Regions from separate parts of the Homo sapiens genome. Here region 2 is linked to region 1. The links come from fine-mapping of genetic effects on gene expression. Tissue or cell type: whole blood. Region 1 holds a variant in brackets; the other region holds the start of a gene. All regions are shown on one strand. Distances are from middle to middle.

The links. PIP is the estimated chance that this variant, and not a neighbour inherited with it, causes the effect.
Region 2: it holds the start of GTF3C2, and the variant in region 1 is fine-mapped to the expression of GTF3C2 in whole blood (TOPMed, PIP above 0.99).

The regions. Positions count from the first base shown.
Region 1 is chr2:27,434,731-27,440,901 of GRCh38, reverse strand. NRBP1 (nuclear receptor binding protein 1) reads right to left here. Exons shown (of 18, transcript NM_013392.4): 6 at 6,140-6,171; 7 at 5,675-5,769; 8 at 4,066-4,149; 9 at 3,797-3,855; 10 at 3,542-3,640; 11 at 1,004-1,136; 12 at 394-499; 13 at 200-250; 14 at 1-97. Among named protein-coding and RNA genes, the nearest start is that of KRTCAP3, 4.6 kb to the left of the region's middle. The variant G/A (reference allele first, on the strand shown) is at 3,032.
Region 2 is chr2:27,354,196-27,360,610 of GRCh38, reverse strand. GTF3C2 (general transcription factor IIIC subunit 2) reads left to right here and starts at 3,847. Exons shown (of 19, transcript NM_001035521.3): 1 at 3,847-3,872. GTF3C2-AS2 (GTF3C2 antisense RNA 2) reads right to left here and starts at 3,846. Exons shown (of 4, transcript NR_183827.1): 1 at 3,755-3,846; 2 at 2,709-2,803; 3 at 1,151-1,726. RefSeq lists enhancers at 3,517-3,646, 3,226-3,839, 3,657-3,996, 4,047-4,326, 3,840-4,453 and 1 more.

The sequences.
Region 1 (6,171 bases):
CTTGACAGAGGGGGGCACGACAGGTGATGTCACCTCCTCCTGCTGTGGCTGCTGGGGCCGAGGCAGCCCAAAGGCTGTCAGAGGATAGATCCCATTCCTGGAGGGAGATGAAGACAGGTCACATGGGCTCTGTGAACGCCTTAGGATACCCAACCCCGCCTGCTTCCTCAAGAAAGCCTGCTTCTCACTCTGCTCTCACCTGACATCTTCAAGGAATTTATCTAATTCCAGAGCTGGTGACTGAGAGTACCTGGACGAGAAAAGAGAAAGGAGATGGAAGGAAAGAAACAAGCAAAATAGCAAATTCAAGCATTCCCAGAGAATGGACAGTTTACAGAGCCTCAAGAGTGGTCGTGACCAATCTGCCCCTTTCAGACCCTCTCAGTTACTCACAAAGTCTGAACTGGTTCTCTTCCTGGTCCTGCAGGGATTTCAGCCAGTACGGCACTAGTATCCATGTTTTTGGTGATCTCCTCTAGAGCGTTCTCTGGGATCATGTCTGGAGGGCATGATGGAGTGGGATATTATGAAGGGATAGTCAGATTAAATGTCAAAGAAGGCATGCAGGCAAAGGGGTAAAGAATCCCTTTGGAGGCCTGGCACAGTGGCTCATGCCTGTAATCCCAGCACTTTGGGAAGCCGAGGCGGACAGATCACTTGACGCCAGTTCAAGACCAGCCTGGCCAACATGGCGAAACCCCATCTCTACTAAAAGTACAAAAATTACCCAGGCATGGTGGCACATGCCTGTAATCCCAGCTCTTCGGGAGGCTAAGGCACAAGAATCGCTTGAGCCTGGGAGCTGGAGGTTGCAATGAGCTGAGATCAAGCCATTGCACTCCAGCCTGAGAGAGAGTGAGACTCTGTCTCAAAAAAAAAAAAAAAAAAAAAAAAAAAAAAAAAAAAGAATCCCTTTGGAAATAAAGAGGAAAACAAGCATGCCAGTGATAGTTACAGGGCTCCAGATTGGAAGACTATTCCCCATAGGGCCAAGACGACTCACGTTGGTGTCCCACAATGCAGTGGGCCGCAAGGAGTTTGAGCGAGGGCACTTCAAACAATGCTGGGTGGAACAGAAGTTCTCTGGCTGTTGGTCTGCGAGCAGGCTCAGACTGCAGGCACTTTTGAATGAACTCCTAGAAAAGGAAACAAGGAACTGGAGCAGGCATCTGGCAAGCCCCCAGTGTGTTCATCTTTATAGCTCTCATTCTACTTAGCACAAGGCTTTGTACATAGTAGGTGCTCAGCACTTGCTGAGAAAACAATATATTGAAAAATGCACCTGAAAGGGCTTCAAAAACTGTAAGATATTATATGAAAGATACCATCCACTGCCTTTCTGGTTTTAATTATTTTTCTGCTCTCCAACCACAAGCTTTCTTTTTTAATGTTCACAATTTTTTTTTTTTTTTTTTTTGAGACGGAGTCTCGCTCTGTCGCCCAGGCTGGAGTGCAGTGGCGCAATCTCAGCTCACTGCAACCTCTGCCTACCGGGTTCACGCCATTCTCCTGCCTCAGCCTCCCGAGTAGCTGGGACTACAGGTGCCCACCACCATGCCCGGCTAATTTTTTGTATTTTCAGTAGAGACGGTTTCACCATGTTAGCCAGGATGGTCTCAATCTCCTGACCTCGTGATCCACCCGCCTCAGCCTCCCAAAGTGCCGGTATTACAGGCATGAGACACCGCGCCCGGCCCCACACTTTCTTTTTCCTTAGTTTCTACCTCTCTGCTTTATTAGTCAACTCACTGCCTATCTTCTTTTCTAAATCTTGCCAAATTTAGCTTCTCTCTTCCCAAACTTACCCAATGTGATCAATATTCACCATTTTTTTATTTCACAAGCCTAGTATCACAATTTCCTTTGCCCACAATCACTGAATTCACCGAATTTCCCAGGATTCCTCTAACGATTCTGCCTTATTTTCTTTCTTTCTTTTTTCTGAGACAGGGTCTTGCTGTGCCAACCAGGCTGGAGTACAGTGGCACAATCACAGCTCACTGCTGCCTCAACCTCCTGGGCTCAAGCAATCCTCCCACTTCAGCTTCCAGAGTAGCTGGGACCACAGGCATGTGCCACCATACCCAGATAATTTTTATTTTTTCATAGAGATAGGGTTTTACCACGTTGCCCAGGCTAGTCTCGAACTCCTGAGCTCAAGTGATCCTCCCACCTCAGCCTCCAAAAGTGCTGGGATTAAAAGTATGAGCCACCATGTTCCACCACCGCCTCCTTTTCTACCTCCTGCATGTCCCATGACAATTAACCTGCTTTCCTGCTTTTAACCTTGAAGGCTAACAAGGTCACATACCTAATCTTTCACTTGAATACTCCACCTCAATGTTGAAGTAGAAACTTACTCCACACTATCCTCCTGACTTCCCACTAGTCTTCTTTTCTCTCCTGTTCCCTACTATACTTATCTAATGAGTTACAAACTGTTCTTGTTTGGACCTTCCTGCCCAGGCTCTGCTTACTATAGTCTATCAACTGATTCATAACCTTATGTCTTTTAAATCTTAGCTCATTATTTCAGGCCACCGTCCCTAACTAAAACTGTATAAATATAAAATCCCAAACAACTGGTTTAATTTAAATTGACTGATGTGCTTAAAAATATAAAAATGGCTGTCTGAGAGTATACAGCAATGGCCTGAAGTAACCATCAAATTAATTTACCTCCATGTAGACACATTCAAATTAACATACTTTTTTTTTTTTTTTGAGACAGTCTCGCTCTCTTGCCCCAGCTGGAGTGCAGTGGCCCAATCTCAGCTCACTGCAATCTCCGCCTCCCGGGTTCAAGCTTGCCTCAGCCTCCCGAGTAGGTGAGACTACAGGCACACACCACCATGCCCAGCTAATTTTTGTATTTTTAGTAGAGACAGGGTTTCACCATGTTGGCCAGGCTGGTCTCAAACTCCTGACCTCAAGTGATCCACCCGCCTCAGCCTCTCAAAGTGCTGGGATTACAGGTGTGAGCCACTGCACCCAGCCAACACACAACTTTTTTTTTTTTCTTTTTTTCTGA[G/A]ACGGAGTCTACCTGTGTCGCCCAGGCTGGAGTGCAGTGGCGCGATCTCAGCTCACTGCAAGCTTTGCCTCCCGGGTTCATGCCATTCTCCTGCCTCAGCCTCCTGAGTAGCTGGGACTACAGGCTCCCGCCACCAAGCCTGGCTAATTTTTTTTGTATTTTTAGTAGAGACAGGGTTTCACCATGTTAGCCAGGATGGTCTCGATCCCCTGACCTCGTGATCCGCCCGCCTCGGCCTCCCAAAGTGCTGGGATTACAGGCGTGAGCCACCATGCCCGGCTTCCAACACACAACTTTTAACCCCAGCATCATCCATCTTAACCCCCTTACCTGTGTGTTTCTATGCAAAAACATGGTAGGCACCTCCTAAGAAAATGTTTATAGATTTTTCGTGTCCTTTCTGTTATGTTCCCTAGCTCTTAGGAGCATATACCCAGTGGGTACAAAGGAAGAAAAACCAGAAGACATTTGAAGGTCAGTTGAGGAGGGAGTGATCCTGAAGATCCTTACCCTCTGTAATGGGTCTTCTAGAAGCTGGATGGCACTGCTGATGGCTTCCTGTGGCACATATGAGGACTCTCCATTGCCCTGAATCTCCAGCACTGCCATCTTCAGTGAGGAAGAATAAAAAAAAAAGTAGACACCTAAGAACTTCAGTGCTCCCACAATCACTCCCTCCAAGCCAGCGCCTTACTTGTCTTCCCTCCATTCCCAATTCCATCTTCTCATCTGACCCCTTTCCCCCCTCCCCTCCAGTCCCCTCACCTCCAGTGCACACATGCCAAAGGAGTAGATGTCCACTGCTGTTGTCACATTAGTGACTTCTAGGGAAAACAGAGAAGGCTTTGGTTAATCAGAGGATTGGGGGCTAGGGTTGGCAGGAATGCCTTAGGAAAAAAAAAAAAGAAAAGAAAAATATTTTGTATGCTGGTAGAGAAGGCCTAGAAGTTTCAGTTATATTGCCTCTGTACCTCAAGTTATAAGGTGCAAAAGCAGGGGGATGAGGACAGGGCAGAGAAAGCAGGAAGGCTCACCTCCATACTCTGGTGCAAAGAAGTGTAGATTCTTCTGCTCTTCTCGACAAGTCTTCACATGATTGTTGATAGTGTCAGGAGCCACTGGGAGTAGGGGAGACACCCACAATCTGACCATCATCAATGAAGAATAGTCTCACTCCAGAGAGAGGCCCCAAAAGCCAAATTCTCTCCTGAAGTCTCCTTTCTGATGACCCTCAACAGGCACAAACATATTCCCTTTCCTGTCCTGAACTACAGACCACACATGGATGCCACCTACCTCCCCTTTCTTAGGCCTACTGCTTCTCATCTAATGTCCCTAAATCAGGAGCAACAAAAGCACCAGACTAAATTAACAGATACACAGGGGCTTCAGGCTGGTCTAGAAGCAATGAAGTTTAAGGAAAAATTTTCACTTGTACTGCGTTCACCTTCCCTAAATCCCAGGTACCTCTAATCCCTGCTCACATGAAAATATTTGGTTTTAGTTTTTTCATCCACCCTGCAAATAACATAAAAACACAGGCAGCCCTTCCTAATCTGGGACAATTGGAGACCTCAGGAACTTGGATAAATAAGGATAAGAAGTATTAACATACAGCTCAGGAGGTAGCCTCCTTCTTACCCACCTTTGCTGAGTGAAACTCAAAACAGCTCAGAATTGAGCTAATACCCTTGAATCTGTTCCACTTTTAATCCACCAAAACATTTTAGACTCCTGTTCTACCCCCTTATTCCTCAACACTGTCTGCCACAGAGCTGAACGAGGAACCAGGACCAGGCCCAATTTGGACTCACTCAGATCATAAACAATGACTACAAGTCACAGAGAATCTGGGAGCACAGTATGATCTGGGAACTAGCCTGATGATGAGGGAGAACATGAATCCAGGAGGTAAGTGGCCAGCCAGGCAGAATCCACAGGAAACAAGCAGGTTATGAAGGGGCAAGCAGGCGGAGGGCTGGCAGGGCAGAAGCTAAGCAGGCATAATTAGGCAGGGAAGATAGGGGAAGAGGGTTTGCTCCCACGACTGCATGCACTGGGCAGCCGCCAAGGGAGCAGAGGGAGCACAAACAGAGCCCCAAGTGGGGCAGAGGGAGCTCTCACCATTAGCAAAAATCCTATGAAAGACTGTTGGGAACAGAGCAGCCCGTAAGCGGGAGGGAGGAAAACAGAGAAAAGTTGTGAGCGATGGAGCAGCCAAGCCCCAGACAAATGGACACACAAATACCACACAGACACAGCACACAGAAATGTTGTACACTGCATACAATACACAGCAAACGAAAGCACTCACAGCAGGAACAGCCTGGAACCTCCTCTGGCAGGGTCTGGCCCCAGGACTCAAATCAAACCTCAAACCTATCTCTTGCCCTTTCCCAGCCTCTTATCAGTATCTCTGTATTAACCCCAATTTTCCCTTCAAAAAGGTGTAAGATTATATATCCTACCCCCTCTCCACTAATTAACTGGCCTCTCCTATTAATTACTCCTAGCAAGGTCCTTTCTCTTCTCACCAGCCCACACCTCAGAATTTTGCTCTGTTATCCCCCATTCCTTTCATCTTACCCCCATGGTTCCCAAATTCCCGAGGCTCCCCTGCCCAGAACCTCTCCCTCCCCTCACCAGAGCCAATCTTGATGAGTCCGTTGTGCTGGATGAAGATGGTGTCACAGGTCAGGTTCCCATGGATGATGGGGGGGTCACAGGAGTGCAGGTAGCTGTGGGGGCACTGGGCTGTTAGAGGGGCCACTGGGAAATTAAGGGCAGGGGGAACCCAAGGGTTAAGAGGAGCAAGGGCCAGGTCTCCTGCTGGTCACCATAAAGATAATCCCCACACTCTGAATCTCCATTATGCCTGATGATTTAAATAGCTGGATAAGCACTAGGAGAAAGAGGTAGGAGATAAGTGTCGTGGTTAGGGCATTAGGACGCACCCTTTAAAAGACCCGTAGGGGCCCTAATCTTGACAGTATATGATTCAAAGAAAGTGGGGAGAGGCAGAATAGAACAGAAGAGTAGTGCCCTGAAATCTGTTTGGAGTAACTACATCAGGAAATATGGGTAAGAAACTAACCAGGTACTACTTACCTTAGGGCAGAGAGGATTTGTGTGCACCAACG
Region 2 (6,415 bases), 80 kb after region 1:
ATACAAAAATTAGCCGGGAGTGGTGGCGGGCGCCTGTAATCCCAGCTACTCAGGAGGCTGAGGCACAAGAATTGCTTGAACCTGGGAGGCAGAGGTTGCAGTGAGCCGAGATCGCGCCACTGCACTCCAGCCTGGGCGACAGAGTGAGACTCAGTCTCAAAAAACAAACAAAACCTTCCTCTCATCAGTTATTTTGAACTAGAGTTCATACTGGAAAGACAAGATAAATGCCTTACTCTTGCCTTTTTTTTTTTTTTGCCAATTTTCAGGAATTGGTCACTACTTTCTTTTTTTCTTTCTTTTTTTTTTTTTTTTTTAGAGCTTAATGAGTTTTTTTTATTTTTTTATTTTTTTATTTTTTAATTTATTTTTTTATTGCTAATTCTTGGGTGTTTCTCACAGAGGGGGATTTGGCAGGGTCATGGGACAACAGTGGAGGGAAGGTCAGCAGATAAACAAGTGAACAAAGGTCTCTGGTTTTCCTAGGCAGAGGACCCTGCGGCCTTCCGCAGTGTTTGTGTCCCTGATTACTTGAGATTAGGGATTGGTGATGACTCTTAACGAGCATGCTGCCTTCAAGCATCTGTTTAACAAAGCACATCTTGCACCGCCCTTAATCCATTTAACCCTGAGTGGACACAGCACATGTTTCAGAGAGCACAGGGTTGGGGGTAAGGTCACAGATCAACAGGATCCCAAGGCAGAAGAATTTTTCTTAGTGCAGAACAAAATGAAAAGTCTCCCATGTCTACTTCTTTCTACAGAGACACGGCAACCATCCGATTTCTCAATCTTTTCCCCACCTTTCCCGCCTTTCTATTCCACAAAGCCGCCATTGTCATCCTGGCCCGTTCTCAATGAGCTGTTGGGCACACCTCCCAGACGGGGTGGTGGCCGGGCAGAGGGGCTCCTCACTTCCCAGTAGGGGCGGCCGGGCAGAGGCGCCCCTCACCTCCCGGACGGGGCGGCTGGCCGGGCAGGGGGCTGACCCCCCCACCTCCCTCCCGGACGGGGCGGCTGGCCGGGCGGGGGGCTGACCCCCCACCTCCCTCCCGGACGGGGTGGCTGCCGGGCGGAGATGCTCCTCACTTCCCAGATGGGGTGGCTCCTCACTTCTCAGACGGGGCGGCCGGGCAGAGACGCTCCTCACCTCCCAGACGGGGTCGCGGCCGGGCAGAGGCGCTCCTCACATCCCAGATGGGGCGGCGGGGCAGAGGCGCTCCCCACATCTCAGACGATGGGCGGCCGGGCAGAGACGCTCCTCACTTCCTAGATGTGATGGCGGCTGGGAAGAGGCACTCCTCACTTCCTAGATGGGATGGCGGCCGGGCGGAGACGCTCCTCACTTTCCAGACTGGGCAGCCAGGCAGAGGGGCTCCTCACATCCCAGACGATGGGCGGCCAGGCAGAGACACTCCTCACTTCCCAGACGGGGTGGCGGCTGGGCAGAGGCTGCAATCTCGGCACTTTGGGAGGCCAAGGCAGGCGGCTGGGAGGTGTAGGTTGTAGCGAGCCGAGATCACGCCACTGCACTCCAGCCTGGGCACCATTGAGCACTGAGTGAACGAGACTCCGTCTGCAATCCCGGCACCTCGGGAGGCCGAGGCTGGCGGATCACTCGCGGTTAGGGGCTGGAGACCGGCCCGGCCAACACAGCGAAACCCCGTCTCCACCAAAACCAGTCAGGCGTGGCAGCGCGTGCCTGCAATCGCAGGCACTCGGCAGGCTGAGGCAGGAGAATCAGGCAGGGAGGTTGCAGTGAGCCGAGATGGCAGCAGTACAGTCCAGCTTCGGCTCCACATGAGAGGGAGACCATGGAAAGAGAGGGAGACCGTGGGTAGAGGTAGAGGTAGAGAGGTAGAGAGGTAGAGAGGTGGAGGTAGAGGTAGAGCAGTTTAATGGTCACTACTTTCAATGGTGTAGGATGAGTAGCTGATATTTTGGCTTTTACTTTTTTTAAAAGATCATTATCAATACATGGATTTCTATATTTTGAACATACTACTTAATCATCAAAATTAAGCAGAGGATCAACAGGGTTGCTTTATGCTTTAGAAAGATAACCGGGCCAGGCATGGCAACTCACACCTGTAATCCCAGCACTTTGGGAGGCATAGGCAGGAGGATCGCTTGCGCTCAGTAGTGTGAGACCTGCCTGGGCAATATAGCAAGACCTCATCTCTATTAAACAACAACAACAAAAAAACCTGGAAGTGGTGGTATACACCTGCCACACACCCCAACTATTCAGGAGGCTGAGGTGGCAGGTTGAGGCTGCAGTGAGCCGTGATTGCACCACTGTCCTCCAGCCTGGGTGACAGAGCAAGACCCTGTCTCAAAACAAACAAACAAACAAACAAACACCTAGTAGAAATTAGAGGCAGAGAAGTAGATCAGTGAAAAGATTGGTTATAAATCAAAATTACAAATGCACCTAAAACTTTGGTTCACAATTCCACTTCTAGAAATTATCCTACCCATATAGTTACACATTTGAAGTAATTTAGATGCAAGGTTACTTATAGCAGTGTGATTTATAATAGCAAGGGACCATTGTTTATAACAGCAAAACCATGTAAATATGCATCAATATCAACAAGGCACTAGTTATACCACATCCACCCAATTAAATGCTAACTAGTTATAGCACAGAATGAGAAAGGTTTTTGTGTACAGAAATGGAATAATGGCCAAACTCAGTGACTTACACCTGTGATCGCAGCACTATGGGAGGCTGAGGCAAGAGGATCACTTCAGGTCAGGTGTTCAAGACCAGCCTGGTCAACATAACGAGACCCCATCTCTAGAAAAAATTAAAAAATTAGGCCGGGCGCGGTGGCTCATGCCTGTAATCCCAGCACTTTGGGAGGCTGAGGCAGGCGTATCACAAGGTCAGGAGTTCGAGACCAGCCTGGCCAACATAGTGAAACCCCTTCTCTACTAAAAAGACAAAAATTATCCGGGCTTGGTGGCGGGCGCCTGTAATCTCAGCTACTCGGGAGGCTGAGGCAGGACAATTGCTTGAACCCGGGAGGCGGAGTTTGCAGTGAGCCGAGATCGCGCCACTGCACTCCAGCCTGGGGACAGAGCAAGACTCCATCTCAGGAAAAAATAAAAATAAAAATAAAAACGGGGTCTCACTATGTTGCCCAGGCTGGTATCGAATTCCTGGGCTCAAGTGATCCTCCCCCGCCTTGGCCTCCCAAAGTGCTGGGATTACAGACAGGAGCTACCATACCCAGCCAAAGTCATGCTTTTCTACTCCTACTCCTTCCCTTCCTTGTCCTCTTTCCAAGCTCTCTCGGGCCCATCCCTGACTTCACTACTGGCAGAATCCTCCAGCGGCCGGCGGCGAGGACTTCTTTGTCTCCCAGACTCCGCCTTGGGCTCGGACGCCGCCAGGGTTGCAGGTACAGACTCTCTGGTCTAGCTGGCTCTTCCGGCCACAGGCGCGGCAGTCCGGCCGGAAAGGCCGGATTCAGGGATCCAGAGCGCGAGCCCGGCCTGGGAGTCCGCCTACTCCCGGCTCCCGTCGAGGCCGCGTGGGATCCCGTTGGCCGCGCAGGCGTCGATCTCCCCTTTTTGACACTGCAACTCCCATGAGGCCCTGCAGCGTCCCTGGCGCCGCTGAAGACGCCCTGGAACTCGGCTGGCTTCGGAGGGCTCGGTGACTCTGGCCGCGCTGCATTATGGAATACAGAGTCTAAGAGAAAACTAGCCCGGCACCGACTCCGGACCAAGCACACGTGTTTACCTTGTGCACTGGGGTGGGGGCGTCAGTGAAGAGCAGCTAACAAGATTTCGTCATAAGACCGCGACCAGACAGGCGGCGCCATCTTCGAACTTAGACTTCCGGAAGGACTTTGGCGAGGGTGAGTGTATCGCCGCAGCGGGTGTGTGGGGGGCCCCACAATTACTCCTCCCCCTTCTTTTGCCATAGCACTAAGATATTGGGAACAAACTCCTGGCTCCGCTCTTCTCCCAGCCACAGCAGCGCGCCTTTCAGCGTCTGCGCTCCTACAGAGCACCATCATGCTCCGCACCTTCCCTACTGTGGCCACCGTGCACCCCCCATCTCTGCAAGCCTCGGGTCTTGCCCTCCTCCCCCACGCGGTGTCGGTAACGCGGAAGCCTGTGTCCGGGCGTAGGCGCTGCATACGTAGCGTCCCTCGAACTCGGCGAACCTACAGTAGTCCTTGTTAGAAAAACCAGGGCTCCTCTCCCGCACAGGCTAGGGGAGAAATCTACCTTCACGCCCAGGACTGAAGAAGGGCAGGTGATGGCCCCTAGAGTGGTTGTGGGTCAATCTCTTTCAGCTGTGTCCCAGCCTCTTCCTCGAGGAGGCTCTTTAACCCCGAGGGTTGTGCCCCGCGCGCTGCAACGCCATTGGCGTAACCAAGGGCCAGTTGTGTTTCCCTGTCTAGTCCTTTTGTCCCGTGGCAAGTTGGCTGCCTGTTGGGGAAGTCAGAGGTGGCGACTTCAACTCCGTCGGAGGCAACTCACTTTGTTGGAGGGATGTATAGGGTATGGACAAACCTCTTTGTTCCAGAGGCATATACAATTTTAAGTCAATCCCGTGCCATCACTATTTTTGCAATCTCTTATCAATTGTACTATTGTTTTCTGAATAGTTCTCTTTAAATTGACTTACTTAAAAAGTTTAAATGCATTAGTCTCGACCTAAGCAATATAAATGAAACCGTGGGTTTCATGGGCTACTTATAATTGTTTATGTAAGTTGAAATAAAAGCACTAGTCATTAAAATGTTCGTTTTCGTACCATTAAAATCATCTTGCATACCGCCAGTTGTACCCTAGGAACACTTTAGGAAACAATATATTAAGCTAAGCAGTGTATTCAAAGTAATTTCATACTTAAGGTGCAGTGTTGTGTCATTATTTTTTCTTGGCTGGGGAGGTCAAGCTGGCATCCTGGAGCAGCATGGGAACCAGACAGATTGGGGTGCAATGGAAGGTTTTAGAAACTCAGTACGAATTTACTGATCATCTATTCCTTTACTGTGTATCCAGAATTTGTACCATTACATCCTGCTGCTGCCTTCCATGAGAAGTGTATTTTTTTTTTTTTTGATACGGAGTTTTGTTCTTGTTGCCCAGGCTGGAGTGCAGTGGCGTGATCTCGGCTCACTGCAACCTCCGCCTCCCGGGTTCAAGCGATTCTCCTGCCTCAGCCTCCTGAGTAGCTGGAATTACAGGCGCGTGCCACCATGCCCGGCTACTTTTGTATTTTTAGTAGAGACGGGGTTTTACCATGTTGGTCAGGCTGGTCTCGAACTTGTGACCTCGTTATCCGCCCACCTCGGCCTCCTAAAGTGCTGGGATTACAGGCGTGAGCCACCGTGCCCGGCCAGGCAAATTATATGTACAGGCAATTCATAAAAGTCATATGGATGTCCAATATATAGAAAGAAGTTGCTGACACCAATTATTATCAGTGCAAATAAATAGAGTGGGGAAGAATTCTTTCACCTATCAGATTGGCGAAAATTAAAAAGATCAGTAACGGTATGATAAAATGGGTACTAATATACATAAATAGTTTTAATTTTGGTGAGCCGTTTGGTAGTATCAAATTTTGAAATGTGCATGTTCTTCAGTGTAGTACAGTAATTCCATGTTCAGATGATTATTCGAGAAAAATAATTTATTGATGAATTAATGAAGAGATTTGTACTAGAATATTTATTGCAGTATTTTTTGAAATAGTATTTTAACTCATTTGTTCATTAAATGAAGATTGTCTAAATAACTAATTCTATGGAATGCCATGCAGCAATTAGGAAGAATGAGATAAATATATGTATACTGATGTAGAAAATCCTTTAAAAAAAACCGGAATCTTCCTCTGTCACTCAGGCTGGAGTGCAGTGGCGTGATATCGGCTCACTGCAACCTCTCCCTCTGCCTCTTGGGTTCAAGTGATTCTCCTGTCTCAGCCTCCCGAGTAGATGGGATTACAGGCGCCTGCCACCACGCCGGGCTAATTTTTATATTTTTAGTAGAGATGGGGTTTCACCATGTTGGCCAGGCTAGTCTCCTGACCTCAAGTGATCCATCTGCCTTGGCCTCCCAAAGTGCTGGGATTACAGGCGTGAGTCACAGCACTTGGCCTAGAAAATCCTTAAGACTTGTATAGAAGCTCTCTTAACTGATTTCCATTTAGCTCCTTATGTTAACTGACATACTCTTATTTCCTCTCTAAATGCTTGAAGCTTGAAGGTTTTTCTCCTGTAGACGTGGTCAGTCTGCTTCCACTAGTTGAGTTGAATGCTTGCCAAGAGTCATTGTATTGGTTCCCACTTTTTTTGAGACAAGATCTTGCTCTGTCACCCAGGCTGGAGTCGAGTGGCATGATCACAGCTCACTGTAACCTTGAACTCCTGGGCTCAGGCGA